Linked DNA regions of Homo sapiens. The protein of the gene in region 7 purifies or fractionates together with the protein of the main gene of each other region. This does not show direct contact. Each region holds a gene or a part of one and is shown on either strand. Other genes may lie near its edges. The genes, in order: RBBP7, SAP18, BCL11A, SIN3A, RBBP4, SMARCC2 and CHD3.

Region 1 (4,517 bases), on a different chromosome or scaffold from region 7:
ACTCATAAATCACAACTTCCCACCTAAAGAAATCTTCTTCCCACCTAAAAATATCTTATACACTAGATGTTTCTTATTTCCCAATAAGAAATTCTACAAGGTAGTATGGACAGAAAGTGTTGAATCAAAAAAACTTAGCTTAAATCCTGGATCAAACTAAAATGCAGTTGCTTAAAACACAACCTCCCTGGGGCCTCAGTTTCTTCACTGAATAAAATAGGCTATAAGTGCAAATGGCATGATGTGAAACTCACTGACGTTTATGATACCTAAGTTTATGAAACGAACATTCTCAATTTTACCGAGGTATCTTTGTTACCTTGTTCTGTGGAAACACCTTGAGGCTGAAGAACTTGCCCAAACCTCTTGGCACCTTGGTCCGAGCAGTGATTTTTGCATCAGTATCTATTAAAAAGGCTTTCCCATTTGTATTATCTAGAATACAATTTTCAACTGTGCTCCATGGTCCCACTTCAATGAAGAGGACTGAGAAGTAGGGGTCTAGGCCCTAACACAAGACAAGTTAGGCCATTTATCTGTTTCTAAATTTCAGCTGCACAAAGGATTCAATTTTTTTTTTTTTTCTAAAAAGATTGAAGATTACTTCTAGGCAAGTAATTTAGTAATAAGAAAATACAAGATGCAATTTTACCAAAATTTGGCTTACGGTAAAAAAGTGTGTGCACATGGAGAAGAGACACACACACACACAGACACACTCCCCCCAAAACAGAGTAAGGCAGCCGTGACTAAGCAATAGCAACGTGTTTGAAAAAAAGACAAATGGGCGCCGTGGCTCACGCCTGTAATCCCAGCACTTTAGGAGGCCAAGGCAGGCGGATCACCTGAGGTCAGGAGTTCGAGACCAGCCTAGCCAACGTGGAGAAACCCCATCTCTATTAAAAATACAAAATTAGCCGGGCATGGTGGCGCATGCCTGTAATCCCAGCTACTCAGGAGGCGGAGGCAGGAGAATCACTTGAACCTGGGAGGTGGAGGTTGTGGTGAGTCAAGATCTCAAGATCACACCATTGCACTCCAGCCTGGGCAACGAGTGAAACTCCGTCTCCAAAAAAAAAAAAAAAAAAAAAGAAAAAGAAAGAAAACATGGGTCTTGGTTGATACATGCACAGTGGGCCAAGAATATGATGTGGCTATCAAAAAATTAATTAATTCCATCTTAGGTGGTCTTTATATGTATGTAGGGGGCAATGCACATGAGCACATGTGCCCCCCACCCCCGACCTTTTCTTTTTTTAAGAGACAAGGTCTCACTATGTTGCCCAGGCTGGCCTCCAACTCCTGGACTCAAGTTGATCCTCCTACATCAACCTCTTCAGCAGCTGGGACTACAGATGTGTGCCACCATATCTGGCTTGCCCACTTATTTTTAACCAGTAAAACCATTAAAATTAGGCTCTAAGCAACATACTTTATGAGGACTTGGATAAAAATCAAACCTTTACAGGGAATAGTGGCTTAAAATGAAAGGGTAAGCCAGGTGCAGTGCTGTGCACCCGTAGTACCAGCTACTAGGGCTACTACGGAAGACTGCTTGAGCCTAGGAGTTCATGTCCAGCCTGGGCAACATAGCAAGACCCTGTCTCAAAAAAAAAAAAAAAAAAAAAAAAAAAGAATAAATATTTGGCCGGATGTGGTGGCTCACGCCTCTAATCCCAGCACTTTGGGAAGCCAAGGCAAGCGGATTGCTTGAACCCAGGACTTCGAGACCAGCCTGGGCAACGTGGCAAAATCCCATCTCCACAAAAAACAAAAAACACAAAAACAAAAAACAAAAATTTAAATAAATATTTAAAAAGAGAAATAATAATGCTTGAGAGAAAGAAGGCACCACAGAGCAATGCTGGTACTGTCATCAAAGGAAAAAAGTCACTTGTTTTTTGTGGAGTTGAGCAGGAAAACTAAGACCAACAAGTAAAAAATAACAGGTAGGTCAGTTTATCACAGGCCCTTTCTAAGGAACACTGTCCCAAGACGGACTGGAGGAGCTTAAAAATCCCTCTGGACTCAAATTTAATTATTCCAGTTTTCCCCAACTTGATCATCATATGAGGACTTTTCTTTTTACTAGAAATCCCTTCACCTCCATCATTAAAACACAGCCTGTTTTCCTAAACTAATCAATATGACACTATTTTCCTCCAATACTGGATGTACCTAAAGGCTGCAGAAGGACTAATGGTTAAGAAAGCCTATTCATTTTCAGTGCAGAATCCTTTGACCCCAGTAACTACCACTAGGAAATTTAGCCAAGCATCACATAAATCTGGCCTATTGCAAGATTATTCTCAGCAGTATTGTTTATAGAAGGAAAAAGACTGAAAATAACTAAGTATCCATCAGCAAGGAACTGGTATCATACATTACACAGTGTATCCATAAACAAAATTCTATGGCACTCTTGAAAAGAACAAGCATATCCAAGCATGCTGACAGGAAAATCTCCAATACATACTCTTACTGACAAACTCAAGTGAAGAACTTGCTACCATAAAAAATGAAGATACAGGTATGCACTTCTACACGCTGGCAAGGATGGGTTAGGAAATTGAAAACAATGACTGGGGAAAGGAAGTAGGACAGTAAGGGATGTGGAAAGGGGACTTATTCTTCACTCTATGTCCTTTTATACTTCCTGAATTTGAAAAATTACAAAGCTTTTTAGGTAGACAATAAGTTAGTCTCAATATATTTAAGACATTATTCAACAAGAGATATGAAATAACTATCTAATTAAAACAAATTTCTTAGAGATACTTAAATAAAACCTTTTAAAAGCCAAATCAACACCTGTAATCCCAGCACTCTGGGAGGCCGAGGCGGGCGGATCACGAGGTCAGGAGTTTGAGACCAGCCTGACCAACATAGTGAAACCCTGTCTTTACCAAAAATACAACAATTAGCTGGGTGTGGTGGCACAAACCTGTAATCCCAGCTACTCAGGAGGCTGAGGCAGGAGAATCGCTTGAACCCGGGAGGTGGAGGCTGCAGTGAGCCAAGATGGTGCCACTGCACTCCAGCCTGGGAGACAGAGCGAGACTGTCTCAAAAAAAAAAAAAAAAAAAAAAAAAAAAAAAAAAGAAAGAAAGAAAGCAAGAAAGCAAGAAAGCAAGCCAGCCAGCCAAATCAATTATTTGGACAATTACCTAACTCAATTGAAGGACAATAGCTAAGAAAGTCCAAGTAATCGTTATGAAGCATGTTGTAAGTCAGCAGAAGAAAGGCCTATGAGGTGGAGTAGGATCTTGTTCCTCAGAGTCAGGCATTGAGAATAGTCAACATTTTTACTGTTCTGTATGGTGATAAAACACAGTCCCTTTATACCCCAAACTGAACCCTGCAAAGCACCACACAACAATCCTCAACATCCAAGAATGCAGGCTGCTTGGCATTTTCTTACATTCTCTAAGCCACTGCACATCCCACAACCCAATCCCACAACAGCTTTGTATACAAAGAACACCATGATACACATTAAATAATTTAATTAAAGCATTTTGTTACATTCCTAAGTATTACATATTATAGGTAACATTTTTTTAAAAAAAACTTCAGCAAGTAGCTTTCATTGAAATCCAAATGAAGAAACAGAGCTATTTCAATCCTGACAAATTATTTCTGAACAGGAAGGGGTGGGAGAATCAGCATCAGTCACCACTTACCGTGTACTTATGCTGCACCAGGCACTTTAACATGCATGATCTTATTTCATTCCCTCAAATGTAGGTAGTCAGTATGACCAACATCTCCATTTACAGCCCAGACAACACGGCCCCAGTTCATGAAGCTAAGAAGTAGGGGCATGATTTTAACCCAGGTCTCTAAGTTTAAAGCCCCTGCTGTTTTCTATTATGTTACAGTGGGTCAAAAAGATCCCCCAAAAGGTAAATTTAGTTAATACATTTTAAATCTGCTTAACAGACCAAAGAGGCAAATGCACACGATGCTCCAAACCAGAACTTGAATACCCGAGTATATGATGCTTAATCTATTTTTCAATCTGTTGTGGCTGTAAACGTCAATGCTTCCAAGTCTCCATCATTTAGTTCTTCTCTACTCTTCCCACATCTGTACATTTATATTTAGATTTTTGGGAAGCCTAGTGGAAATTCCTATCTGTATAGAAATCAATGTTTGCATATGGAGAACCCGGCCACTGTAAGAGCAGTTTTATATACATTAGATTATTATTATAATAATTATTTTTATTTTTAAGAGATGGAGTCTCGCTCTCGCCCAGGCTGGAGTGCAGTGGTGCGATGTTGGCTCACTGCAACCTCCGCCTCCCAGGTTCAAGCAATTCTCCTGCCTCTGCCTCCCTGTAGCCTGTAGCTAGGACTACAGGTACACGCTGCCACGCCCGGTTTTTTTTTTTTTTTGGTATTTTAGTAGAGATGGGATTTCACCTTGTTGCCTGGGCTGGTTTTGAACTCCTGAGCTCAGGCAATCCGCCTGCCTCGGCCTCCCGAAGTGCTACGATTACAGGCGTGAGCCAC
Region 2 (4,257 bases), on a different chromosome or scaffold from region 7:
AATAGTTGCCTAGTCATGATTAATCCTTTCTAACAGAATAAACATAACTTCCTTCAAGCTTGTGCCATTGCAGACTCCAGGAAATTAGTTATTTGCAAAAGCAACCTATATTTAAGTAATAGAAGACAAACCAGAACAGGCAGACATCTGGCTGCTCTTAACACATTCAAAGTGGAAACTATGACCATGTCATATTTTTTTTTTGAGAGGCATTTTGAGTTTAAAAACTGAAGAGGTCTACTTTAGATAACCAGGCAAAAATTGCTACTTGTAGGGAATAACATCACTACAAGAATAGTGTGTCAGTGTAGTGTGGGTGGATGCCAGACTATAAGAAACTGAGTATGAAAGAACATTATTTCTGGAAATGTTTCAACTAATCCTCTATTTTTGGCTACCTAGGTCCAATGCCCCATTTTTGAGCTGTTAAAGTAGCCCCTCAATCTGGGCCTCATTGTCACCTATAAATAGCAACTATAGTCACTGTATCTCAGTTGTGGTTACATGAGGTAATGCTGGTAAAGTTGTTCCTCAGCACAGTATCAATGTTCCTTACTTAGGGGGTCATGTCTGGATAAACTCATCATGAGTTGAAAATATCCTAAGTCAGAAGTGCCCTTTCTACTTATAAGATGTTCAGTTGGCAGCTGGTTTATTGGGATGTAGCCCCATAATAAGCTGAGGACCGTAGTGAATGGCTTATCGCTTATGCGCCACTGCAAAGCTGAAAAATCTAAAGTTGAACTATCATAACTTGGGAACCATCTGTGTTTGGCACAAGTAAACACTTAAATCATAGTTACAAACTTGATTTAGAGTGTTGCCTTCTATTTCACAAAAACAAGTCTGAAATGTGTTTAATTGAACAAGAAAGAGGTGCATCAAGTTCAGCTCCTTATTATGTTCAACTTTAGAGAATTTTAAACCTAGCCTAATAATGTTTCTTTCTACATTCACACCTGCCCCTCACATGCATACAACCGATACCTAAAACATTACCTGAGTCAATGATCAGCTGGGCATAACCGTCCCAGTTTTTGTACACCGTGAAAAACTAAAAAGACATTATAGGCAATATCATGTACTGTAACACATATTCCAAAGGGAAAACGTCAATTCCAAAATACCTAGGAGCAAATGAGGCAACCAGGGCAGACACTAAAGCACTGAGCAAGATGCTGTCATGATGACTACTTATTTATTTCTATTTTATATGCGGGGAAACAGCTCAGTTATTACTCAAAGCCACACTTACCAAAGCCAGAGGTAAACTAGTACAAGTCTTTTGATTCTTAGCATTATATTCAATAAATTCACTAGGTATTCTCTAACTGTACTTTTGATGGGATATTGAAATCTTTAAAGGAGAAATTCCATGTTGGAACCAAGCAAAGGGTGGAATTTGACAAAGCAGCCCAACCACTTTGGCTTACAAAGTCCTTTATTTAGTTCCTACCCTCTTCATCTGCATAGTAAATCATAGGGTTCCCCCCCACCCCCACCACGAATAGCAGTTAATCATGGCTATTCTCCAAAAAGCTAGGTGCAAATTAACTTTATGGCTCCAGTCTATCTAATCTGAATGAATAAACAACCTAAAGGTTTGGGGTAAACCACAGCACAGAAGAAGCACCAGATCTAGGCTCCAGGCTGGTCTCTGCCATTGCTAACAGGGACACCAATTCCACAGAATCATCAGATTTTAAATGGCTGTTTTTGTATGTACCAGATAAAACTAGTGCAATTTTATTGCTGCTGGTACTTTTTTTTTTAAATTTTGGGATATACATTTTCAATTGGCTACTGTAACAAACTAAAGGGAATTTACAATACACTGTCGTACTGTTCATAAACTTCAAAATGAGAGTAGTGCCATGGAAGAAAAGAGATCCAGTTTTAATACCACTTTATGGCCAATAATCAGTATTTATTGTTTCTCATTTGTCAGGCACCATTCTAAGCTCTTTTAAAATATTCAGTCTTAACAATCCTATAGGCCGTTATCTCCGTTTTACAAAATAAAGATTGAAATAATTTATCCAAGGTTGCAGAGTCACTGCTGCAATCAGGACTTCAATGTTCTGCTGCACTGTCTTCATCACTGCTTTACTGCCTCTCAGATCAGATGCACGCCACTACCTAGCACACAAGAGGATGTGTGAACACCTCCTACTCATTCAACCTGACCTTGTCCTTGGCTCTTCTCCCTCGGTCTTAAGATTCCTCCTTCACCCCTCCCTCCATTTGCAGATCTCCAGGGTTAATTAAACCTTTCTACCTCTACCCAAACCCTTGTTTCCTCTGAACTGGTTCCAGCCTTTAAAATGCCCTATTCCCCACATGTTAAAAACTTAAGTGCTCATTGTGTTGCCTGTTCTTTAACCTTTTATGTCATGGTACCCTGATCAAGGCGGGGCAATCTCGTCCAACACAGCTTCTTCAACTTGCCGCAGCTTATTCCAAACTGCCTCTGCTGCCACTTGAGCTCACTCTCACGTGTCCTTTCCAACTGCATACAGCAGTCTACACCACAAACTCATGTTTGATTTCATACAATCCCGTGGCTTTCTTGTTCTGCCCCTTTGGGCTTAACCATACGCTCCTCCACTACTTAGTATAAACCCTGTTCCCAGGCCTCCATTAACTTTCACACTCAGGCTGATTACACACATATATTTAACAGTACAGTTTTACACAGAATGCTAAGAGCACTTTTCTTCATATTTTACAGAAGGGCTTGAAACATACAGACTATTCGTAATCATACAATAGCACATCCAAATCTAACTCCTAAATAGATGATGCATTATAATTTGTTTAGAATTTAAAGGCTTAATGGCAATAATCAGGGGAGGAAGAAGAGTATGTTTATTTTACATAACTGACGGAAAAATAAATTCAACAAATAGTAAATAGAATTTAATATGGTCTCATGCGCCCTGAAGGAGGTGGTGCCCGATTTGGAGGGGTAATTGCTATGTCCAAGTAATCTCCTATCTGGAACTTCTGCGACTGCAGGGTCATGGAATCATCAGTCCCCTTTCTGCCAGACATGGTGCTGCCAATCTCCTTAACTCTGTAAGAAAGAAAATCAACTGTTAATGGATCCAAATCAATGAAACCCAGTATGTACTACAAAGTGAATATGGCACTGGATTTTCTCCATCATTTTATAACACACTTCCAAAATTTAACTACTTTATTAAGCCAAACCACGTATTAATATAAACCCATATTCTCCCACTAACAAGATTCATTGAAGGAGTTATCTGTATCAGTTAAAACATACTAAAAACAAAGAGATTACAGGACTTAAAAATGAGAAGTTACCTACCGATAGCCAGGTCTTTTAACATCTGTAAAAACGATTGCAAAATTGAAGTGAGTGCCCTTCTTTCTAGCTTCTGGGTAGACTTCTTTTACTAAGCTTGTCAGTTCTTTCAAGGTTGCATCCATCCTGGATTTTTTTTAAAAAAGACATTTACATTTGCTTATTAATCAGCAATAATATTAAAAGGGATACTAACAATGAGTTAATTACATATATCTGAGTTGTGATTTACATTAGAAACTGCCAGGGTCTTATACTAGAGATTAATTTTAAAGCAGCTAAAAATACTATTTGCCTCCAAAAACTCCATGTACCAGCCTTACTGCTGGAAATTTCAATTAATTAGACTCTTAGTGCTAAAAGGGACTTCAGAGATTCTATATGCTATCTTCTGTTGCTACACAACACCTTATGGCCTAGTGATTTACCTAAGGGTAACTAGTCCAAATAAATCCAAATATGCAAAATAGATGTATCCCATTAGTTCTAAGACATGTACCCTTCCACATTTTAGCATCTCTGAAATTGGAATGTATCTTAGAATCAATGTACTAGGAAAGCATTTTCATACTGACGTTTTGTTTTTGAGAGAGTCTCGCTCTGTCGCCCAGGCTAGAGTGCAGTGGCGTGACCTCAGCTCACTGCAACCTCCGCCTCCCAGGTTCAAGCAATTCTCCTGCCTCAGCCTCCTGAGTAGCTGGGATTACAGACGCCCACCACCACGCCCAGGTAATTTTTCTATTTTTAGTAGAGACAGGGTTTCACCATGTTGGCCATGCTGGTCTCGAACTCCTGACTTCAAGTGATCCACCTATCTTGGCCTCCCAAAGTGCTGGGATTGATTACAAGCGTGAGCCACTGCGCCCAGCCAGATGTGTTTCTTCTTTCTTAGATAGAATTGTAAGTTTTACAACAGATAAGAGTAC
Region 3 (4,517 bases), on a different chromosome or scaffold from region 7:
CCAGTAAATATTGGTCCAATTGATCTTCCTGCCATTAAACTCAGTTCTAGAAATTTTATATCCAATCCCCAAAGCAGAAAAATCCTGACCAGTTCTGGCTTGAGGATGAAGGTCCCTACATTCTAGGCACCTCAACAAATGTCTTCTAAACTTTCCAGTTCCATCAGCTGTAGTTTGGGGCAAGCCATCTCATCTCCATGTGCCTCTGTTTCCTCCTTGTTAAGTGAGAAACTTGGACAAGGTGACCCAAGGAAACTTTTTGGCTTCCTAAATCCCAGCTTTCTATTCCCCCCTGGGTGACAGGTGAACTTTCTAAATAGGCAAACATTTCATAGAGGTATCAAAAAAGGGGAAGAAGGTCAACTCACTACAATGTTCTATGGCCCTAAAGATGCTTTCAGCATTAGCCTGAAACACACTAATTGTTGATATTGTTAAAATGAGAGGGTACTCATAAAATACTTCCGTGGAAAAAAGACTAGCAACATTCTCACACCCCAGACTGTGGGAGGATCAGTGAGTCCCAATTTTGGTTCCACAACACCCCATGGGGACGTCCATTTTTATCTCAAAGAATGTTTAAAAAATCTGAAAGAAAAACTTCATTCAGATTTAACGGATAGGCTGTATCCAATCTTTAGGAGTTGTCCCCCGGTCAGACAAATGCAAGTCTGGAAAAGTTAGGAGGAGTGGCTGGTGCCGACTTAAGCAGACACAGCATCCTAGTTTAAGGAACAGTTAAAACAGCCAGCGCCATGACAGGCAGCAGGCTGAGAAATGCTACACTATCCTCCTCCTCATTGTTTTGAGAGGCTAACAACGTGAACCAAATTATACAACATCCTGCGCCCTCGGCTGGGACTCAGCTCCAGTTGAGAAAGAAACAGAAAGATACAGTTCAGCTAGTCAACTCTGGCCAGTAGCCAAGCCGTCTGGAGAGGGGCCCTGCTTAAGTCACATTATTTCCCTTGCTGAAAAGAACCCAAGAGTGGTAAATGCCACTTTGGCAAAGAAGGGCCAGCTTGACTTCACAAAATATTTCATTTGGGGAGATGGCTAAATTAAATATATATGGGGAGATAGCTACATTAAATATATATATATATGGAATAACTGACCAACAGTTTACTAGTCAACTGCAACATTAAAAAGGGCAGAAGTAATGGTAGCCAAAGGACGAGGATGAGAAAAACAAAACTTCCCAGAGATTCTGAAAAAAAAAGCCTTAAAATATAACTGAGAAATAACAAACTTTTCTCCTTCTTTTAAAAGAAGGGCTGCAAGAGTTCTTTAAGGCCACAGCTAGTATTTGTCAGTAACTTTCTAAGAAGGAAAAAAAAAAAAAATCTACCAGGGAGGTTAAGAGTGAGAATGAGGAATTAATCAATTATATGATGCCTCCATTTAGCAAGTCAGAAAGAAAAGCCGGCAGGGTCTTCTCAGGAGCCCCCAAACACTGGTATTCCAAAATAAGCCAGCCTCGCTCAAGCACTTGTCTAAATAATGGACTCCTGCCCTGACCTTGTAATTTACTTTACAACGCATTTATAATCCCACTCAATATATCTCACTCCTGGGTAAATCTCTTAAACAAGATTAGATGGTAAGATACCAAAATTAGGTTTCAAACATTTGTCTAATGTGGAAGGGGGAAAAAAGGCAGAAAGATTTTGAAAGAAAACGCTGACATTAGTATCACATTATCTGCCTATTTTTGTTTGCCTCCTCTCTTCAAAGGGAAATAAAAAGCTTCATTGAGAACATTTTTATAAATTTTTTGTTGTTGTTGAACAATAACTTGGGTCCCAAATAGGCTGGAAAAAAAACTATCTGGTTCCAACTACATGATCCTCTGTGGCTTCCTCCTTGTCCTCCCTAGATCTCTGGGTGACTATCATTCCTATTTAGCCTGACGATCTGAGTTGGGCAAGTAAAAAGATTTGTCTGATAATCCAAGTCCTTAACACGTTCATCACTCCAAATGCCTTAAAATTATATTTTACCTTATAAAACATCGATTGAAATCCAGGACTAGACTCATAATTAGTGGTGCTGGTTTCACATGTGCCATGAATTGTAGTCATTGATAAATGCCAAAATCTGTGGCATACAGCACTACATCAAGGATCTCATTTGTATCCTTTCAAAAAGGCTTAAATGAGAAAAGTCCATTTTATTTTGCTGCCCTGAGCATCCTAAACTTTTTTTCAGAGCCAGTTATGTGATCATGCTACAGTATGTTAACACTGTGATGTTATCCTCCCCTCTCTCTCATACATCAGGTCAGAGAAAATGGCATTTTATCTTATAATGAGCATACAACATACAGTTTTCACTATCGCATTTTAGTATTCCCATCAACTAGATATTCTAGATCATGAGGGCAGCTAGTGTAATCATAATGTCAATGAGAAGGGCTGTTACGATTGAGACTAAAGATTACATGGAGAGAGCTGCTTTGAAACTGGTAATTATTACCAGTCCACTAATAGCAAATGATGCATTACAATTTCACCATATAATCTGTATTTCACTCAGCTCATGCCGGTGTACCATATTATATTACAGTGCTCACAGATTCTAAATTCCTAAACTGCAGTCATCAATAAATGTGTTACTTGCCATAATTTGTGAAATTACTTTGTTCATAACATCTTTGATGATTTAGAAAGACTGGAATTGATTTCCTGTGTGGCAAAATTAGGGCTACATTGATTTATTGATGTGTAAAATATAATAATATTCTTCATTTACTCTGATGAAAATCAACTTCTCAATTTGAGAGCCTCATTGGGCATTTACGGGGATTGTTTTGATTTAGAGCAATAAACTGACACCTGGCCCCTAAGCATAGGAACTTGAGACATCAAAAGGGTTAAAATCAGCTATTAGCCCACCTACTGGCTTTTATTTTATTTCATTTTACTTTATGGGAAGGAATGACCCCCATTTCTAGTATGTCACCAATGTGAAAAAGTCATGTGATCTAAGCCTCAAGATTCAGAAGAACAAGGAGGTCTGAGACTGGAGGCCTAGCTCTATTATCCACTAGATTGTAACTCTGGGATAGTCATTTGATTTCTCTGAGTCTTGGAATTCCTATCTGTAAAATGAGCATAAAAACAGTACCTGTAAGAATTGTTGGGAAGTTCAAATGACAGAAGTATATAAAAGCCCTCTGTAAACTATCAGGTCGAATGTGAATGTGAGTTTTCATTACTACCAGGGGTGATTAATTACTGAGGGTAATGACTAACCACATTACACACCCCGAACGGCTTCCAGAGGAAGGTCCCAGTCCAGGCCTTAACCCAGGCCAAAAGGAGGCTCTAGTTAAAGAGCAGGGGTGACTGGCACACAGCAGAGTGGCCACAGGGAAGTGCTATGAGCTCTGGAAGCCAGGGGCAGCAGGTTAATGCCGCCAAGTGGAATGGGCATCAGGTTTGTTCTAGAGCTTTCTGGACCCCCACAACCCACTTCCACATACCTTGTTCTGGTCACTCCTAAATTGGTCCTGCCAGCAGGGGCACCAGCAAACTATGTACCCTCCCTTTGTGGGAAGGTGGGAGAGGACAGGGGTTCCCTATCAAGCTCAGACTTTCCTACCAGTCAAATCAAACTCCCAGCCCTCAGGAAGACCAGGCTGAAGACCGAGAACTATGTTTCCCTGGCAACAGCCCTTGGCCTCTCAACTCCACCCTCCTCTGAACTGCTCAACTCCCTTCTATCCCTTCCCTCCAAAAGTGGCTCCGTTTCCACAGCCCCATGCAGGCCCCAGATGCCCCCAGCAACAGGAGAGCTCTCCCCACCCAGCCAGCATGCAGGGACTAGAAACCGTGAGCCCAACCTCCTAAACCTTCTGCAATCTGTGACCTAACCCAGGCTTAGGCCCAGCTTGGGGGAAGGGAGCAGATGAGGTGCTTTTAACCCCTGAACCACCCAGCCCTCAGGACCTGAGGGCTTATGAAATTCACACAATAACTCTTTGTTACCTAGGATTACCTAGGAGTTAACAAAAATAAACAACTGGCTTTGAATCTGGTCTCAGGGTGCATGCCCTGCTCTTCAGATACCATTTACAAGATGGGTAAGTGTCATCTCCCTCCCATCTAAAAACAGTCCCCCTTAGAGCCTTAACTCTGGCATCTTGCTCTTTGTTATTCTCTCTCCATGACCTTTTTCCTTTTCTTTTTTTTTCTTTCCACAGCAGGTTATTTTTCATTTACTTTCAAATAAAAATTAGATGTCACACTTCTTTTCTTCTTGAACCTGCTTTTTTGTGTTTAGGGTGGAATCACTGCCCACCCCCTAACCTTTTAGCCATGCATGATTCATACCATGTGTTCCTACACAGAGAAGCAAACTGTATTATTTTCTAAAACAGTATCTTTCAGAAAACATTTGTATAAATGGACAAATTTAAGTTTCATAAAATGGTCCCTACTATAAAAGCTCACTTGAACAAGTAAATGGTGGTGGCAGTGGTGGTGGTGGTGGTGGTGGTGATGATGGTGGTG
Region 4 (4,517 bases), on a different chromosome or scaffold from region 7:
AGAATCAGCTGGGTAGCTTTGAAAACATGCAAGTAAATTAGAATTCCCCTGAATGCTATGTATGTGTGTACTACAAATAACTATCACAGCAATAAGATTACAAGTCATCGGCCAGGCGCGGTGGCTCACGCCTGTAATCCCAGCACTTTGGGAGGCCGAGGCGGGCGGATCACGAGGTCAGGAGATCGAGACCATCCTGGCTAACACGGTGAAACCCCGTCTCTACTAAAAATACAAAAAATTAGCCGGGCGAGGTGGTGGGCGCCTGTAGTCCTAGCTACTCGGGAGGCTGAGGCAGGAGAATGGCGTGAACCCCAGGAGGCGGAGCCTGCAGTGAGCCGAGATTGCGCCACTGCACTCCAGCCTGGGCGACAGCGAGACTCCGTCTCAAAAAAAAAAAGATTACAAGTCATCTTAAATCCTCAAAAATTGGTACAGGCACTGGTACTGCCTGCCACACAGACCTGGATATCTACAATGGGAGCTCCAAACATCTTTCAAGAGAAACATAATACATTTTCTAAAAATCTGTCTTCTGCCCCAAACTGCTTCATAAAACCAAAGCAAACAATGCTACCATTTTTCTAGCTATGCTAATAGTACTAGCAGACTCAAAGGACTCACAACTGGGAAACTATGTTAAAAAACAGAAAGTCCTAATTAGCCTGACACCTTTAAAACGAAACCTTCCAGGGGGATAAGATGATTTTCTTTTGGCATTAACAGGCACTATCAAATCTAACTCATCCATTACTCACCTTATCAAAAAATAACGATTCTGTTCCACCACCATGTTTGCTGGCATCTGCCATAGAAGAATCCTTCAGATTGAGCAGTTTGGGTTTCTTCTGCAAAAGAAAGATACAAACATGTGAGATTCAACGAGTGGTTTTCTCTGAATTTTATTTTTGTCTGTATTCAATGGTTTCATCACTGAAACCACTGCTGATTAATAATTTGAAACAAATGAGAGAACTCTAACCAACTCACTCCATACCCTCTAAGATTTCAACTCATATTTTCTATTTCAGTTTGCCTATTAAGTTTCTTTCTACAACAGAGGTTCAAAGATCATTCTACCCCCAAAATATTTTCTCCAGAAATGATCATGACATTACTGTGACAAACTTTTAGAATATCCTTACTTTTTCTAGGGGCCCAAAGTAACTTCATGTAGAATCTAATGCCACTGTTTTGTTCTCCTACCAGCTGAGGGAGAAAAGGCTGTTTGTAAAAAGAGCTCACAAATTGACAGAAATCAATCTTTAACCCTGAATAATATTTCAATTAAAAATTTACTTAAAAAGCATAATTTGCTGGGCATGGTGACTCATGCCTGTAATCCCAGCACTTTGGGAGGCCAAGGTGGGCAGATCATGAGGTCAAGAGATTGAGACCATCCTGGCCAACATGGTGAAACCCCGTCTCTACTAAAAATACAAAAAAATTAGCTGGGCGTGGTAGTGTGCGCCTATGGTCCCAGCTACTCAGGAGGCTGAGACAGAAGAATCGCTTGAACCCAGGAGGTGGAGGCTGCAGTGAGCCGAGATCACGCCACTGCACTCCAGCCTGGGCAACAGAGTGAGACTCCATCTCAAAAAAAAAAAAAAAAAAAAAAAAAAAAAGGCACGCCAGCAATATCCACTCAGACTAATTTAATATTGTTCTTCTAAAGGGAACCAACAGGCCATGATATAATCCTGTCAGGCAAGAAGTTACTTTTAAAATCCACCACTTACTCTCTATGAAGAAATGCACAAACTTTGTGAGAAGTAGCACATTTACCTTGGCTATCTCAGAGTATACTTTCTTAAGAGCCGCAGCCTCTGCTTACACTGCCTATGGAGAAAGTAGGCGGAGAATTTTAAGCCCCCACTATATTCTTGCCACCTGTAGGTAATCAAGAGTGGGCGGACGTAAATCCAAGCATGGAGTGTATCTACTGAGCTGATTCTTGCTACCCATATAACTAATTCTCTTTATTGAAATGAAGAAATAGAAACCATTATTATGTTCAACTTGATTTCAAAAGATTTCAAAAGAAGAAACCATGACAAACACTAATGAAAAGGATACTTCAAAAGTGTCAGTAACACCTAGTACGTCAGACCTTGTAGTCAGTCAATCACTATTCATCAGCCACCTCTTACTATTAGAAATTCCCAAACTTTTGTCATTATTTAATTCTGCAGACATATCTGTCTCTTCTATATTACATACTGCTTTGAAATTCACTGAAGAATTAAACATTCAATACATACAACTAGCCCTCTCCCTATCATAGCTGTGTTACATCAAAGAAGGGAGCAAGCTAAGTTTTCTGCAGGCAGACCATCAGTGTTAACTATAACAAAAAACATCATGTAATGGATTACTAAGAGGAGTTTAAGACTTCCCTCTGCTACAGCCCAAAGGTCCTGCCTTGGAGATTAAGATGATACACATAAGATCTGGTAACCCAACAAAGAACTTTGAGCAGGACAGGGTTCTAGACCAGAGATCTCAAAAAACACATGCACTCTACTCACAAGAGGACCTCAGAGACCACTTATTTCTGAAATAATTCTCAAGCTCAAGAATGTTCTTTCTTAACACAAGGCAGATTTAAAGCATCAAAGAAGAAGGGGCCAGGCGCGGTGGCTCACGCCTGTAATTCCAGCACTTTGGGAGGCCGAGGTGGGTGGATCACCTGAGGTCAGGAGTTCAAGACCAGCCTGGCCAACATGGCGAAACCCCATCTCTACTAAAAATGCAAAAATTAGCTGGGCGTGGTGGCACACGCCTGTAGTCCCAGTTACTCAGGAGGCTGCGGCAGGATAATTGCTTGAACCCGGGAGGCAGAGGTTGTAGTGAGCTGAGATCACACCACTGCACTCCAGCCTGGGCGACAGAGCAAGACTCCATCTCAAAAAAAAAAGAAGGGAAAAAAATTTCAAGTATTGGAAATTCTTAGTAGCAACCAAAACATTAAAGAAATGACAGCTCATTGCAAAGGAGAGATAATAAAGAACTCAGAAAAGTACAGTAATCCAAGCAATCAATGTTATTCTAATACTCTTTTGCAAAGCCAGATAAACTCTGCACTGAGTTTCTGTGACACAATACTAACTTCCTCCAAATATCTAGGACCCAACCGTTAACACACTTAAGAACACATGACTGCCGGGCACAGGTAATCCCAGCACTTTGGGAGGCCGAGGCGGGCAGATCATGAGGTCAGGAGATCGAGACCATCCTGGCTAACACGGTGAAACCCCGTCTCCACTAAAAAAAAAAAAAAATCAGCCCGGTATGGTGGCATGCGCCTGTAGTCCCAGCTACTCGGGAGGGCGAGACAGGAGAATCGCTTGAACCCGGGAGGCAGAGGTTGCAGTGAGCCGAGATCGTGCCACTGCACTCCAGCTTGGGCGACAGAGCGAGACTCGGTCTCAAAAAAACAAAAAAAAACAACAACAACAAAACACATGACCACCTCTAGAGTACCTCTCCATTAGAAATACTTGTGAGTGTCAAAATGAGCAGCTGCTGCCCATTCTCACCTTAACTGGAGGGGTGGTTCCTGTAGGATGTCTGCGGATCTGGCAGCCATTCTGGCTGGGCCTCTGCGGCTTGTTGTTCAGTTGGGGCTTCTTGACAGTGCCTCCATGATCATTTCTCACAGAATCAACCTTCTCAGCAGTTGTTTTGCTTAAAAGCTGATTAAGACACATGAATGAGATTAATGCTCTTATCAAAGCAAACAAATATCATCTAGGAAAAGTCCCCTTCTGAGCACAGTTTTCCAACTCATCTAAGATAATAATAGTAAATAGTGTAATTCTTATTAAAAAAACATACCACGGAGCTGTTGGCATCTGGTAGGAATTGTCCAAACTCTGACAACAAATCTTCCTGGTTTTTAAAGAGACGAGCAACCTGGGCATACACCTCCTGCTCTGTCAATGCTGGAGTGTAGTTTCCTCCAGCTTCCTTGGCATTTCTCTGCTCTTTCTGAGGAATTGCAAATGAAAAGAGATCATTTGGGCTACTGTTTTGAGTCACTCATCTTTGCACGCTTTCTGGAATCACTGTTATCTATTTAGGCTGCATGTAAGAAGAAAGTCTATGTTCTTAGCACCCGTTCTGACCACAGACTTTCAAGTTGAGAAAAAAAAAAAGTTGAAGATGGTGGATGACAATTCCTTTCAAAACTAGGGTAGTAAATATTTTTGAGACGGAGTTTCACTCTTGTTGCTCAGGCTGGAGTGCACTTGTCTCGGCCTCCCAAAGTACTGGGATTACAGGCGTGAGACACCATGCCCGGCCTAGGGCAATAAATATTAATGCCCAGGGGACCACTACCAACTGACAAAACCTTAGAAATTTCTCCTCCTCCTACTGTACATTAACTAGACTATATAAATCACCATCTAACTGTCCCAGATAAAACTGAGTTTCATTTCATGGGACAGTGACTAACAATCCTGACTGAGGCCGGGCACGGTGGCTCATGCCTGCAATCCCAGCACTTTGGGAGG
Region 5 (3,269 bases), on a different chromosome or scaffold from region 7:
GATTACAGGCGTGAACCACCGTGCCTGGCCTACTAAACACTTTTATGGTTTTTTTTTTTTTTTGAGATGAAGTCTCGCTCTTGTCCCCCAGGCTGGAGTGCAATGGCACGATCTCAGCTCATTGCAACCTCCGCCTCCCAGGTTCAAGCAATTCTCCTGCCTCAGCCTCCCGAGTAGCTGAGATTACAGGCACCTGCCACCACGCCCGGCTAATTTTTTGTATTTTTAGTAGAGGCTGGGTTTCACCATGTTGGCCAGGCTGGTCTCGAACTCCTGACCTCAGATGATCCACCCGCCTCAACCTCCCAAAATGCTGAGATTACAGGCATGAGCCACTGTGCCTGGCCAGTTTTATGTATTCTTTAGACTAGTGGTTTCCAAAACTAAAGTTTTCTCTAAAGCTGTGGACCTTCTCCCCCAGATAATTTTACATAGAATGCAATATATAAAGCAGTTAAAAGCGGAGTTATTCTCTAACGGAAAAGTACCAAGGGCACTCCAATTTGGCCAGCTTTTGGGGTTGCACAGAAAAGTTTGAGAACCACTAAAAAGCCTGTTACCTTGAGTATGAGCTCTAAGCCAATGGCAAATCCTGGCTCTATCACTAAGTTGGAAACTTTGGACAAATTACTTAAGCTCTGTGGCTCAGCACCCTCACATGAAACATGAGATTAATAATACTCCCATATCCATAGGGTTGCAAGGAATGAACTAGTAAGCCACTTTCCCACAATTCCATGACTATACATTGATTAGACCTCTTCTTCCCCTTTAACTCTTTACTCATCCTTTAAACCCATTTCCCTTCTTCCTGAAGTTTCCCGATATCCTTAGTGTGCGACAGATAACCCTCCTGTTTCCACAGCACCTGTTACTTTATACTACTATTGCTGTAGCAGTTCCCCTTTTCCTGAGTTGGGGAATGTATCCTTTCTTTGTCTTTGTCCTATGTAGAAAATTAAAACTGGCAATGCTGTCAATGCAAGTGCTGGGGCAACTGTAGACAGACATGTCCTGGCCCTTGAGAAATTAGTATCTAGGTAGAAGGCAGCAGAAAACAAGGGACTGGCTGTCTAGGTGAAAAAAGTGGCAGGAACACAGGCACACAGATCTGAGTTGTTAGGCTAGAGTAGTGCTGTCTATCACTGCAAGCAAGCCACAGATGTCATTTTAAATGTTCTGGTAGCTCTATTAAAAAAAGAAACAGATGAAATTAACTTTAATGCATTTTATTTAACCCAACACATATATTTCAACATGTAATCAGTATCAAATATTTTTGACATATTTTACATTTTGTGTGCTGTCTTAGAAATCTGCTGTGTATTTTACACTTACATTACATCTCAATTGAGACTAGTCATATTTCAAATGAGTCCTATGTGACTAGTGACTTCGGTACTAGTAGTCCAGGGCTAGAGGAAAATGTTCATACGGAAGAGTAACAGAGGTTCAAGTTGGAGGTAGGGGTCAAACTAGAGGGGGTCTGAATGCCACTAAAGAAAGTGGAAAGCCTTTGAAGGATTTTGAGTTGATTGTAAAGTTAATCTAGTGGTTAACACAGGATTAAGAGACCATCCTTAATGCCACTGTAGCAATCCTTCCTTCATTTCATTGAGGCTGTTCCACTCTGTCACAGCTTATCACTGGTGGTGCAGACTGCTTTTCCAAGCATGTACTTTTGTACCTTACCAACGGGTCTGGTAGGTAGTGAGGACTGAGCAATCAGGACAGCAGTATGCAGATGCTTCCCTCTTCAGATGACACACTCTTAGGCATGGCTGGGCACTAAAAAAGGTCCTTTGACAATGTTGGTGAAAGCTGAGATTCAGCCAGAGTATCAAACAGTGCGGATTGATGTGCCACAGGTACAATGTCAAGTATGACTCAGAGGACAAATTATCTAGATCCTTCTAATAATAGCATGTACCCCAACAACTGGATTCCTTAGTATTCTTCAAAATCTGAGGTAAAATCACTCTCGCTTTAAAAGATACCAACTTCACCCCTTCCTCTCTTCCCAACTCCCTCCTGCTTCCTTAAGGATCCATGCCAGCTAGCAGGTAAACCAGAGACTGACTTGCTGACATCTTCCTTACCTTATTCCTCAGGTATACATCCTAGGCAGGGAAAATTTACAGAATGCATCCCAGCCTGATTCTGGAAGAATGAGAAAGTTATCTGAGGGCTCCCAAGGGCCTCCTGTGCATACCATCTTTATCTTCCAACTTAGAACTAACCAAATTCAGTCTTTTTGTGTAATGAAAAAAGGATAAGCTGGGCACAGTGGCTCACACCTGTAATCCCAGCACTTTGGGAGACCGAGGCGGGAGGACTGCTTGAGCCCAGGAACAAGACCAGCCTGGGCAACATAGCGAGACCCTGTCTCTATACAAAAATAAAGAAGAAAAAAGGATGCAGGAAATTAGCAATAGGATAGCCAACACCCTCACTAAAGCATCAATTTCCATATGATGTTAAGTACCAGGTAGAAATCTCTCTGACTTTAAGGAGCTTTGGACACAAAAACTTTTCCTTAAACAAGCCATTTATTTTCTAAACATGGACTTCCACTAGTTGTGTAACTCTCCTAGAATTCTAGCCAATATTTAATAATTGTTGCCACACTTTTGTATTTCAACTTAAGTATTTTATATTATTAAAAACTACCAATTATCTTAACAAACCTGCACATGGAGGGAGAGGTATATGAAACTCAGCCCACTAACTAGACCAAAATCCTCCTCAATGACACTAAGGTTGTAATACTAAAAAGTCCCAATCACCCTCCCAGGATTCTATTAAAGCAAGCTGTGGTTAACAGACAAGATGCCTTTTTCGTCATCATTTTCAAAAGCATTGTCACTTTTTTTCCAAGACACAACTTCTTTGAACCTGTTTCATAACCTATCATATAAATACCAGCCTCAATACTGCTATCAAGATTAAACAATGAACAAAAAAGTGTTTTATAAGTAAGAGTGGACAATGTGAGTTTTTATTGTTTGGCTCATTAGAAATGTTCTTGGCCATCTCATGCAGGAACAGCTGGAGGAAATGGAAGAACGCCAGAGGCAGTTAAGAAATGGGGTGCAACTCCAGCAACAGAAGAACAAAGAGATGGAACAGCTAAGGCTCAGTCTTGCTGAAGAGCTCTCTACTTATAAGTCAGTTTCTGCTGCTATACAAATCTCATCTAATACTGGCTGAGGGGATGGTGGGAGGGCTTAGGGAAAATTTTACCTTAGAATCAAAAACAAAAAGAGGAT
Region 6 (3,979 bases), on a different chromosome or scaffold from region 7:
ATTACAGACATGCGCCACCACGCCGGCTAATTTCTGTGTTTTTAGTAGAGATGGGGTTTCACCATGTTGGCCAGGCTGGTCTCAAACTTACAACCTCAGGTGATCCACCTGCCTCAGCCTCCCAAAGTCCTGGGATTACACGCGTGAGCCACTGCGCCCAGCCTTTTTAAAAAATTAAATTATTTTGGCCAGGTGTGATGGCTCATGCCTGTAATCCCAGCGCTTTGGGAGGCTAAGGCGAGCAGATCACTTGAGTCCAGGAGTTTGAGACCAGCCTGGGGCAACAGGGTGAAACCCCATCTCTGCTAAAAATACAAAAATTAACCGGGCATGCTGGCACGTGCCTGTAATCCTAGCTACTTGGGAGGCTGAGGTGGGAGAATCGCTTGAACCTGGGAGGTGGAGGTTGCAGTGAGCCGAGATTGTGCCACTGCACTCCAGCCTGGGCAACAGAGTGAGACTCCATCTCAAAAAATACATAAATAAATAAACAAGCATGGAGGCTGGGCACGGTGGCTCACGCCTGTAATTCCAGCAGTTTGGGAGGCCAAAGCGGGTGGATCACCTGAGGTTAGGAGTTCAAGACCAGCCTGGCCAACATGGTGAAACCCCATCTCTACTAAAAATACAAAGAGTTAGCCAGGCGTGGTGTAGCACGCCTGTAGTCCCAGCTACTCGGGAGGCTGAGGCAGGAGAATCACTTGAACTTGGGAGGTGGAGGCTGCAGTGAGCCGAGATCTGACAGAGCAAGACTCCGTCTCAAAAGAAGAACATGGAGATAGTGTGGCAAAGGGTAACATGGAGTCAAATACTGACAGGGTTGAAAACAGGCCCAATGGTGATATATTTTTTAAAGCTTAGAGAAGGGATGACTAACTTTACCTCCTCCTGAGATAAAAATAAAAAATAAATAGGTCAGCATTATTTAAGGTGTGAGTGAGGAAAGATTTCCTCTAAGTGAGATGAGATTAGAGAAGTGGACATTTTCTTCCCTGAGGTCTTCAAGGTCTGGCCTCACCTTAGCTTTCACTGCGGCGGCGGCCAGGGCGGCGGCAGCAGCGGTGGAGAGGTTGCCCTCGCCAATGTCCCGCTCCACCTTTGTCTTCCTTTCCCCCTCAGACTCCACCACTTCCTTCAGCACTTCCTCCTGCCCTTCCTTTGGCTCCTTCTCCTTCTCAGGATCGACTGGGCCAGGACAAGGGTTGAGTTAGCCCCACAGCTTCACCTCTGTCCTGCACCCCCACCTACCCTTGTGGGAGGCTCACCTATTGGGTCTCCATCACTCTTCTCGGACTCCTTCTCACTGTCGCCTTCTTTCCCTTTCTCCTCATCCTTCTTGGGAGCCTCGCTGGTTTTCTCTTTTGCTTCCTCCTCTATAGCACCCCCTCCTTCTCGGGGTTCCTGAAATTCCAGTGATAGAAAAGGAGAGTTATCAGGGATTAGGGTGATTAGTTCTCACACAGAGGGGCCAGACGGGGAACTAAATTTATTCCTCTTACTTTGGAGGTGATCTGATTCTAGGAGACAACCCCGTCCAAAACCAGCCCTTGCCCACCTAAGCTGAACAAGGCCAACTTCCCCATCACCACAGTGCTGCACGCAGCCCCTGCAGCTTCCAGAAATCCCTCTATACCTTGGGCTCCTTCTTCTCATCTGTGGCCTGGCCTTCCACCCGAGCCTCGTCATTCCCGCTCTCCTCTGGGCCCATGAGAAAAGAAAGAAAACAGGAAATGTTTAATACACAGTCGTCTGTGTCTAACACTTTTCTTTTTTTTTAGAGACAGGGTCTTGCTGTGTTGCCCAGGTTGGTCTCAAACTCCTGGGCCCACGCAATCCTCCCACCTCAGCCTCCTGAGCAGCTTGGACTATGGGTGTGAGCCGTTGCACCCAGCTTCTCCATAACACCTGTTTTTTTTTGTTTTTTGTTTTTTTGTGACAGGGTCTCACTCTTGTCGCCCAGGCTGGAGTGCAGTAGCACAATCATGGCTCACTGCAGCCTTGACTTCCCAGGCTCAAGTGGTTCTCTCACCTCAGCCTCCTGTGTATCTGGGGCTACAGGCGCATGCCACCATGCCTGGCTAACTTTTTTGGTATTTTTTGTAGAGACGGGATTTTGCCATGTTGCCCAGACTGGTCTCAAACCATCTGCCCACCTCAGCCTCCCAAAGTACTGGGATTACAGGCATGAGCCACTGCACCCAGCCTTCACAAGACTTTTTTTTTTTTTTTTTTTTTTTTGAGAGACGAAGTCTTGCTCTGTTGCCCAGGCTGGAGTGCAGTGGCTTGATCTTGGCTCACTGCAACCTCTGGCACCCAGGTTTAAGTGATTCTCCTGCCTCAGCCTCTGAAGTAGCTGGGATTACAGGCACGTGCCACCACGCCCAGCTAATTTTTGTATATTTAGTAGAGACAGGGTTTCAGCATCTTGGCCAGGCTGGTCTTGAACTCCCGACCTCGTGATCCACCCACCTCGGCCTCCCAAAGTGCTGAGATTACAGGCATGAGCCACTGCGCCCGGCCTTCACAAGACTTTTCTAACAGCCCCTTCTACAAGCAAAGATTTTTCTACCCAAAATCTTCATGAGAGGACTAGTAGGGCTCCAGAGCCCCTGAGGTAAACTCATGGGGAAAATAAAAACCCTACCAATGTTCTCATTCATGTTGTGCTCTAATGCCAACTTGAGGCAGAAATGGCACAGGAGGCCAGGTAGCTCTGGATCTTGTGAAAGGCAAGAAATCTGGGAACCTGCCTGGCCTTACCAATCCGCTCAGGCTCATCAGAGGTGGTTCCTGCAATGCCACTGCTTTCCAGACCGAAGGCAGGGTCCGCCTTGCCTGTTACTTTGGCTGCTTCTTCCACTTTTCGAACATGGGCCTCCACCAAGGCCGTGGGTACCTCTTCCTTCATTTTGGAGAACTCCTCTGCAAGACCCAGAAAGAATGAGGCTGGGAGCGGCACAGTGGAACAGTTCTGGCAATCCCTGCAAAAGCTTACTCACAAGCCCATGTCTTCATCTAAGCTAGTATGGAGCCTAGACAGGTGCCTGAGCTGAGGCCCGCACAGACAAGGCCAGCAGGGCAGCCAAACTTGAGAGGATTCACAGTCTGAGTAACTAGCCCTTCAAAAGCAAACTAAGAAGGCCAGGTGGAACCACCCACCCCCATTACCTAGGGCTGACTTTGCAGCAGCAGAGGCGACTCGGGGATCGACGACAGAGGCCAGGAAGGCAACAGTGCTCATAACAGGGTTGCCCGACTGACTGAAGGGGATGGGTTGGTAGGCCAGGGGGCCTAGGGAGGCCTCTGAGTCCTCCAGGTATGGGTCTTCAATGGGAAGACGAAGAAAATGCAAGATGCACTCGTCCTGTGTGCGGCTTCCCACATGCTCGGACACTTTGTTCCAGTCATCTTTGTACATTTCCAGTGCCTGGTGGTAGTGGTGGAGACATAACTCCGCTTACTTAGCCACTTTTCTCGAAGGCTGACTCCCCCCATCCTACTAAGGGCAGCTGGTTTCAAAGTTCTCTATGTTCTGGTATTTGTGTACTCTGCTAGGTCCAAGGGGGATCTTGAAGTAGCACTAAGAAAGGATATGAAGTTAATGAAATGGCCCAAATCCCCAGCCTGGAGCTGGTCCTGAAGCTCACTGGAGCCTTGACCTCCTAGGCTCAAGCAATCCTCCCACTTAGCCTCCTGAGTAGCTGGGACCACAGGTGTGTGCCACCACACCTGGCTAATTTTTAAAATTTTTCGTAGAGACGGAGTCTCACTATGTTGCCCAGGTTCATCTCGAACTCCTGGACTCAAGTGATCCTCCTGCCTTGGCCTCCCAAAGTGCTGGGATTACAGGCGTGAGCCTCTACACGGAGCCCACTTCTGTTTTCAGAGAAAAACTCTCTTTTCTTTGCCCCAATTACCTCCAGGAGAAGCAGGGTTTCCTGTTCTGTCCACTCACGAGTGGCACTGGCTGCAGCCTTGC
Region 7 (4,517 bases):
GAGTCAGTGACTACACCAGGCAGGATTAGATGGTTAGAGGGCTTTGGGATATAATCTCTATCAATGGCAAGGTGAGAGGGGGTAGGAGGAAAGGTCGAAGGTCAAAGGGAAGTTTCATGGGGTAAGGCCAGAGGGTTGGATGGGTGGTAGTTTCTGCCTTATGGGGTGAAACACATGTGAGGGAATGTGATTTGTTTGATCACAGCCAGGGATCTGTATGGTGCATTCACAGTCCAAGGCCCCTAACTGGATGATGTTAAGCAGTATGGCAGGCATGCAGTTCCACTGCCAGTGAAGAGGCCCCACTGTGTGGAGGGGACACAGAGGCTGGGGCAGGTCCCTCTATTGGGCACGGATGTGAATGCTATCAGACATGGATGAGGGTTGGCTTGCACAAGTCCTAGAGGCTAAAATCCAAGGGGGTGCCAGGTCGGTAGGAGTGGGGTTAGAGGTCAGAGGGGGATGGTTCAGCAGGTAGAGGGGTCAGGGGGTGGGAAGATTTTGAGGGGTGCGGGGTGAAGACTTACGCAGCGTTGTGGGCCCTCCCCCGCGCGGGGCCGCCGCGGCCCTTACCCTTGTGCAGGACGGCGTTGGCCGGCTTGTTCCCCGCCAGCGACTCCTTGGAGAGGTGCTGGTGGCTCTCGGCCAGGCACTCGGCCTCGGCGAAGCGGGCGTGGAGGGCCATGGCGGGGTGCGCCGGCTCCTGCGACAGGTTCAGGTAGGCCGCCCGCCGCAGCTGCTCCTCAATCACCAGCGCCTGCTCCAGGAGCTGAGGGCACAGAGTTGGGAGGTGAAGGTAGGGCTCTGCCAGCAGTGGGTGAGGGGCTGGGGGGGCGGACATAGCAAGAGACCCACCCTGCCCTCACTGCTGGCCCAGGGCACTCCCAGCTCCAAACCGACTGCGAACCTAGCAGCAACCCTGACCCAGATCACACTCCCAAGCACAAGGTTACACTTTGGTCTTGGCCCCAGGTATCACCTCAGCCCTGAAGGTGTTAACCTTCCCTAGGTTCCAACTAGATCTGGTCTCACTTCTGACCCAAGCCCGTCTATAACCCGCTCCTTTCCTCCCTCATTCCCACCTTGAACCTCCGGGCCAGGAACTTATTTTTCATCTCCAGAAAGTTCCCCTTATTGGCTTCAGTTTTAAATGGCTCGTTGATAATGGCAAATTGAGCATCATTCTGGATGTCCTGCCACCGTGCATAGCCATGGCTACCAATGAAGGAAAAGGAACCATCAAGGAATTTAACAGGAATGGGCTTGGCTTTGAACACTTCTTCCTTTTGGCTTGACTCCCCAAAGTGTGGCACTAGCCCTGTCCCTGGGTGTGAAATCATCTTTTTTTTTTTTGCCAGCTTGAGAGAACCTTTTCCTTCTTGCATGTGTATCAAAGGATACAGGACAATCCCAGCCAGAAGCCAATAGTCATGTCTTCTGTGCCAGATCTCATTGAGTTTCCCCGAGGAAATAGCTGCCCGTTCCTCATTCTGCCACAGTGTGTGAAGCTCTGCAAAGAAGGCAGCAGACAGAAGAGGTAACAGGGTTTTGCAGACTGCACTCAGTCCAACAGACAGGTAGAGATGGAGAAACTGAATAATGAAAGGGAACTAAGGGCTCCTGAAGAGGAATGGGTAAAGGTTAGGTTTGGAACAAACTCAGTTCTAACCAGGTTCGTTAGAATTAAGAATAAAGGTGGGATTAGGGCCAGCTTTGGAGTTAAGAGGGATACTTAAGAAAGATTTAGAGCAAGGATCGGAGTCAGCATGCAACATACTTCATTGGAAGTTACTTGGAATTAAAGGTAGCAGGAAGCCTCAGGCAAAACGAGAAACCCCATGAGGATGAGCAGATCCCCTTGAGGAGCAGAAAGCAGCGAGAGTCTCCCCAACCTGTGAAGCCACCATCGGCGATATTGAACATGAACCGGGGCTTCTCTGTCTTTTCCTCTCGTCGCCCATTGGACCGTGGCTCATCTCGAGGCCCTGGTCGAAGCTCCCGGTCACCTTTTACATCTTCTGCTAGGACAGACAGGTCAAAGCTCACACCTCAGGACACCCTCCTCCCAGGTCCCAAGACTACTATCTGTACTGTACTGTACTGGCCTTTCAAACAGCTACCCGCCCAGGACCCAAGCATTCGGTTCCCCAGACTCCACCTCCCCTGATGCCCTCTGGGACCCAGGTGTCCGGTCCCTTCCACCCATTACCTCTCTTGCCCAAATCCCCTGTTTCCCCCTCCGGCCTCTCCCTGTGTTCCTGTCCATCCAACGGCTTCTCCTCCCCCCTTTCTCCTGGCGTCGACTCTGTGGCTGTGGGAGGGGGTAGGGGATAGGAAGGGAGGATGTTACCCTCATCCCCTGACCCCAGAAGAGGGAAATCCCAAATTCTAATCCCCCATCACTCCTAAGGCCATGCACCCACCTGACTTCTCTCTGTCCCCACGGTACCCAGGTTCAGGCTCCATCTCTCCAGGCACCCCTGGCACCTCATCCTCTAGAGGAATCTTCCTTGGCTCCAGCCGCTCCCCAAGTGATGGGGCTGGGCTGGGGGCATCAGCCTGGAAGAGGACAATGGGGTCAGGATGAGCCAGAGGGCTCCCAGGTACCTGGCCTCCAAGCCCCCTCCCCTCCCGCTCCACAGGGGAATCCAGGGAGCCACACACCTCTGTCTCCATCTTCTCCCCAATTCTGCTGTTCTTCTCTGGCTTTTCCTCCTGGTTTTCAGCTTCCTCCTTCTCAAGAGGTGTCCTTATGCCTTCTCCTTTCTCACTTGGAGCTGGAGTAGCTGCAGGGGAAGGCACAGTGATAAAGACAGAGATTCTCCCGCCCTGACTCCTGGCTCCCTTTCTGTCTCTCCCACCATCCTGACTTCTGATTACCAGGTTTAGAGGTGCAGGGACTGTTGGTAGCAGAAGCCTCAGGAGTGGTGGGAGACGTTTTGGTAGGAGAGGAGGCTCTGGAGGAGCGCTTAGAATCGGCGCTGGGGTCAGGCATCAGTTCCGGCATTGACCAACGCCCATTGATGTGCTCAAACTCCTGCACCTGGGGTGGCAGGGTGGGAGGGTTAGGTGTCAGCTCCAGGCGCTTACAGACAGGAAGCTCCAGTCTCCTCCGTCTCACACCAGCGCAAGCTTACAACTCAGGGACAGAGGCAGAGGAAGGACAGAGACTAGGCAGCCAGCTTGATTCTTTGGGTGACAGGAAGACTGATACCTTCTTTTTGACGAGAGACATGACTCCAATGCGGGTCAACACCTGCTGGCGACTCAGTCCCTCCCGAGGGACCCCATCGGCAAAGGTTTCAGAGCCGTCTGCCCCAGGCTCACACAGATGGCGCATGAACAAAGACACATAGGCCCTAAGGAGCATGGGAGTGGGAGGAGGGTTAGGGGAGCCACAGAAGGGGTATAGGGCAGTGAGGGAGGCGCGAGGATGACTGAGGACCCCCAAACCCCCAAATCCCCAGGTGCTCCAGGGCTCCTCCCCTGGGCCTCTCACTCTCACCATTACCAGCCCTCCAAGTCCTAACTGTCCCCCTGCGCCCCACCCCTGGGTCTTTCCCTTTGGCCTTGGTACTTAATTCCTGGGCCCCATCAGTCAGCTCTTCATCCTTTCCACCAGCTCCTCCTGCCAGGTTATTGTGGTCAAGTAAATGTGAGGCTAGGACAGCCCAGGAGAGGCTCCTTGCTTCAACGCCCCTCCCCTGGGGAGGATGCCTGGCCCCTCTACTCTAGGCTCGGCTGAGGGGAGGTGGAGTGGGCTGAGACCACCCCCCAGGAAATCGAGCCAGGAAGTATTGTATGACAGGGAGGGTGATAATCAGTTGAGTAAGGTCACATCATATGGCGGCCCCAAGGAAGAAAGGAACACCCAAAGCTCTTCCCCTTGCGTCCAACTCAGCCCTGTATCACCCACACTCACTTAAACTCCTTCTCAGTCTTGCCCCTCAGGTCCCGCACCAGCCACTGTGTGGTGAAGGCATCCTGTGGTGGCATCCCCCAGCGCATCACAGCATTGAGGAAAGCCTTCCGCTGACGGGTGTTGAAGCCCAGCACCTGAGGGTGGGAGCAAGGAGGCAATGGCGACAAATGTCTAGGGTTCTTAGGTCTTGTCCTTTCTACCTTCAGTGATCCAGGCACCAACTTCCAACCTCCTGCCCTCATGCCCTCTTGGAGAACTCAGGAACACTGGGCCCAGCTCTCACCTCAATGTTGCCCCCGACTCGGGCCAGCAGTGGAGGCAGTGGCTTATCTTTCTCATTCCGGAGCTGCCTCTTTGACTGTCTACGCCCTGAGGGTGGGGATGACATCAGTTAGCTGAGCCACCACCTCCTCTAAGCCTCAGTCCTCCTTAGCACCCCATTCCCACAAGATACACAACACAGGAACATTCCTGTCACGTTTGAGGTGCTCCCAATTCTCTCCCAAGCACTTCAGAACTACTAACCCACTAAGTCTAAAAGAACCAGTCATATTTTAAAATTAACAGCTGATATCTGACAAAGGCCCAGATTACC

Evidence for each region.
Region 1: the proteins of CHD3 (region 7) and RBBP7 purify together in Homo sapiens (affinity purification with mass spectrometry; 8 studies listed by BioGRID and IntAct, with this or other methods). This does not show direct contact.
Region 2: the proteins of CHD3 (region 7) and SAP18 purify together in Homo sapiens (affinity purification with mass spectrometry; 2 studies listed by BioGRID, with this or other methods). This does not show direct contact.
Region 3: the proteins of CHD3 (region 7) and BCL11A purify together in Homo sapiens (affinity purification with mass spectrometry; 3 studies listed by BioGRID). This does not show direct contact.
Region 4: the proteins of CHD3 (region 7) and SIN3A purify together in Homo sapiens (affinity purification with western blotting; 3 studies listed by BioGRID, with this or other methods). This does not show direct contact.
Region 5: the proteins of CHD3 (region 7) and RBBP4 purify together in Homo sapiens (affinity purification with mass spectrometry; 9 studies listed by BioGRID and IntAct, with this or other methods). This does not show direct contact.
Region 6: the proteins of CHD3 (region 7) and SMARCC2 fractionate together in Homo sapiens (co-fractionation; 3 studies listed by BioGRID, with this or other methods). This does not show direct contact.

What each region holds. Positions count from the first base shown.
Region 1 is NC_000023.11:16,863,457-16,867,973, forward strand, and holds part of RBBP7 (histone-binding protein RBBP7), read right to left. Parts: intron 1-4,517. UniProt on the Homo sapiens protein: Core histone-binding subunit that may target chromatin remodeling factors, histone acetyltransferases and histone deacetylases to their histone substrates in a manner that is regulated by nucleosomal DNA.
Region 2 is NC_000013.11:21,146,005-21,150,261, reverse strand, and holds the end of SAP18 (histone deacetylase complex subunit SAP18), read right to left. Parts: intron 3,458-4,257; coding exon 3,335-3,457; intron 3,077-3,334; coding exon 2,920-3,076; 3' UTR 1,165-2,919; downstream 1-1,164. UniProt on the Homo sapiens protein: Component of the SIN3-repressing complex. Enhances the ability of SIN3-HDAC1-mediated transcriptional repression. When tethered to the promoter, it can direct the formation of a repressive complex to core histone proteins.
Region 3 is NC_000002.12:60,462,591-60,467,107, forward strand, and holds part of BCL11A (BCL11 transcription factor A), read right to left. Parts: intron 1-4,517. UniProt on the Homo sapiens protein: Transcription factor. Associated with the BAF SWI/SNF chromatin remodeling complex. Binds to the 5'-TGACCA-3' sequence motif in regulatory regions of target genes, including a distal promoter of the HBG1 hemoglobin subunit gamma-1 gene.
Region 4 is NC_000015.10:75,406,297-75,410,813, forward strand, and holds part of SIN3A (paired amphipathic helix protein Sin3a), read right to left. Parts: intron 3,991-4,517; coding exon 3,838-3,990; intron 3,696-3,837; coding exon 3,540-3,695; intron 849-3,539; coding exon 759-848; intron 1-758. UniProt on the Homo sapiens protein: Acts as a transcriptional repressor. Corepressor for REST. Interacts with MXI1 to repress MYC responsive genes and antagonize MYC oncogenic activities. Also interacts with MXD1-MAX heterodimers to repress transcription by tethering SIN3A to DNA.
Region 5 is NC_000001.11:32,684,156-32,687,424, reverse strand, and holds the end of RBBP4 (histone-binding protein RBBP4), read right to left. Parts: 3' UTR 3,168-3,269; coding exon of another isoform or gene 3,043-3,167; 3' UTR 1,214-3,042; downstream 1-1,213. Other genes in the region: SYNC (syncoilin), read left to right, coding at 3,043-3,167. UniProt on the Homo sapiens protein: Core histone-binding subunit that may target chromatin assembly factors, chromatin remodeling factors and histone deacetylases to their histone substrates in a manner that is regulated by nucleosomal DNA.
Region 6 is NC_000012.12:56,168,511-56,172,489, forward strand, and holds part of SMARCC2 (SWI/SNF complex subunit SMARCC2), read right to left. Parts: coding exon 3,918-3,979; intron 3,428-3,917; coding exon 3,169-3,427; intron 2,923-3,168; coding exon 2,761-2,922; intron 1,699-2,760; coding exon 1,634-1,698; intron 1,402-1,633; coding exon 1,266-1,401; intron 1,186-1,265; coding exon 1,019-1,185; intron 1-1,018. UniProt on the Homo sapiens protein: Involved in transcriptional activation and repression of select genes by chromatin remodeling (alteration of DNA-nucleosome topology).
Region 7 is NC_000017.11:7,905,395-7,909,911, reverse strand, and holds part of CHD3 (chromodomain-helicase-DNA-binding protein 3), read right to left. Parts: intron 4,292-4,517; coding exon 4,206-4,291; intron 4,057-4,205; coding exon 3,923-4,056; intron 3,790-3,922; exon of another isoform or gene 3,652-3,789; intron 3,360-3,651; coding exon 3,215-3,359; intron 3,044-3,214; coding exon 2,881-3,043; intron 2,787-2,880; coding exon 2,665-2,786; intron 2,560-2,664; coding exon 2,424-2,559; intron 2,312-2,423; coding exon 2,210-2,311; intron 2,022-2,209; coding exon of another isoform or gene 2,019-2,021; coding exon 1,893-2,018; intron 1,511-1,892; coding exon 1,402-1,510; intron 1,216-1,401; coding exon 1,083-1,215; intron 770-1,082; coding exon 574-769; coding exon of another isoform or gene 528-573; intron 1-527.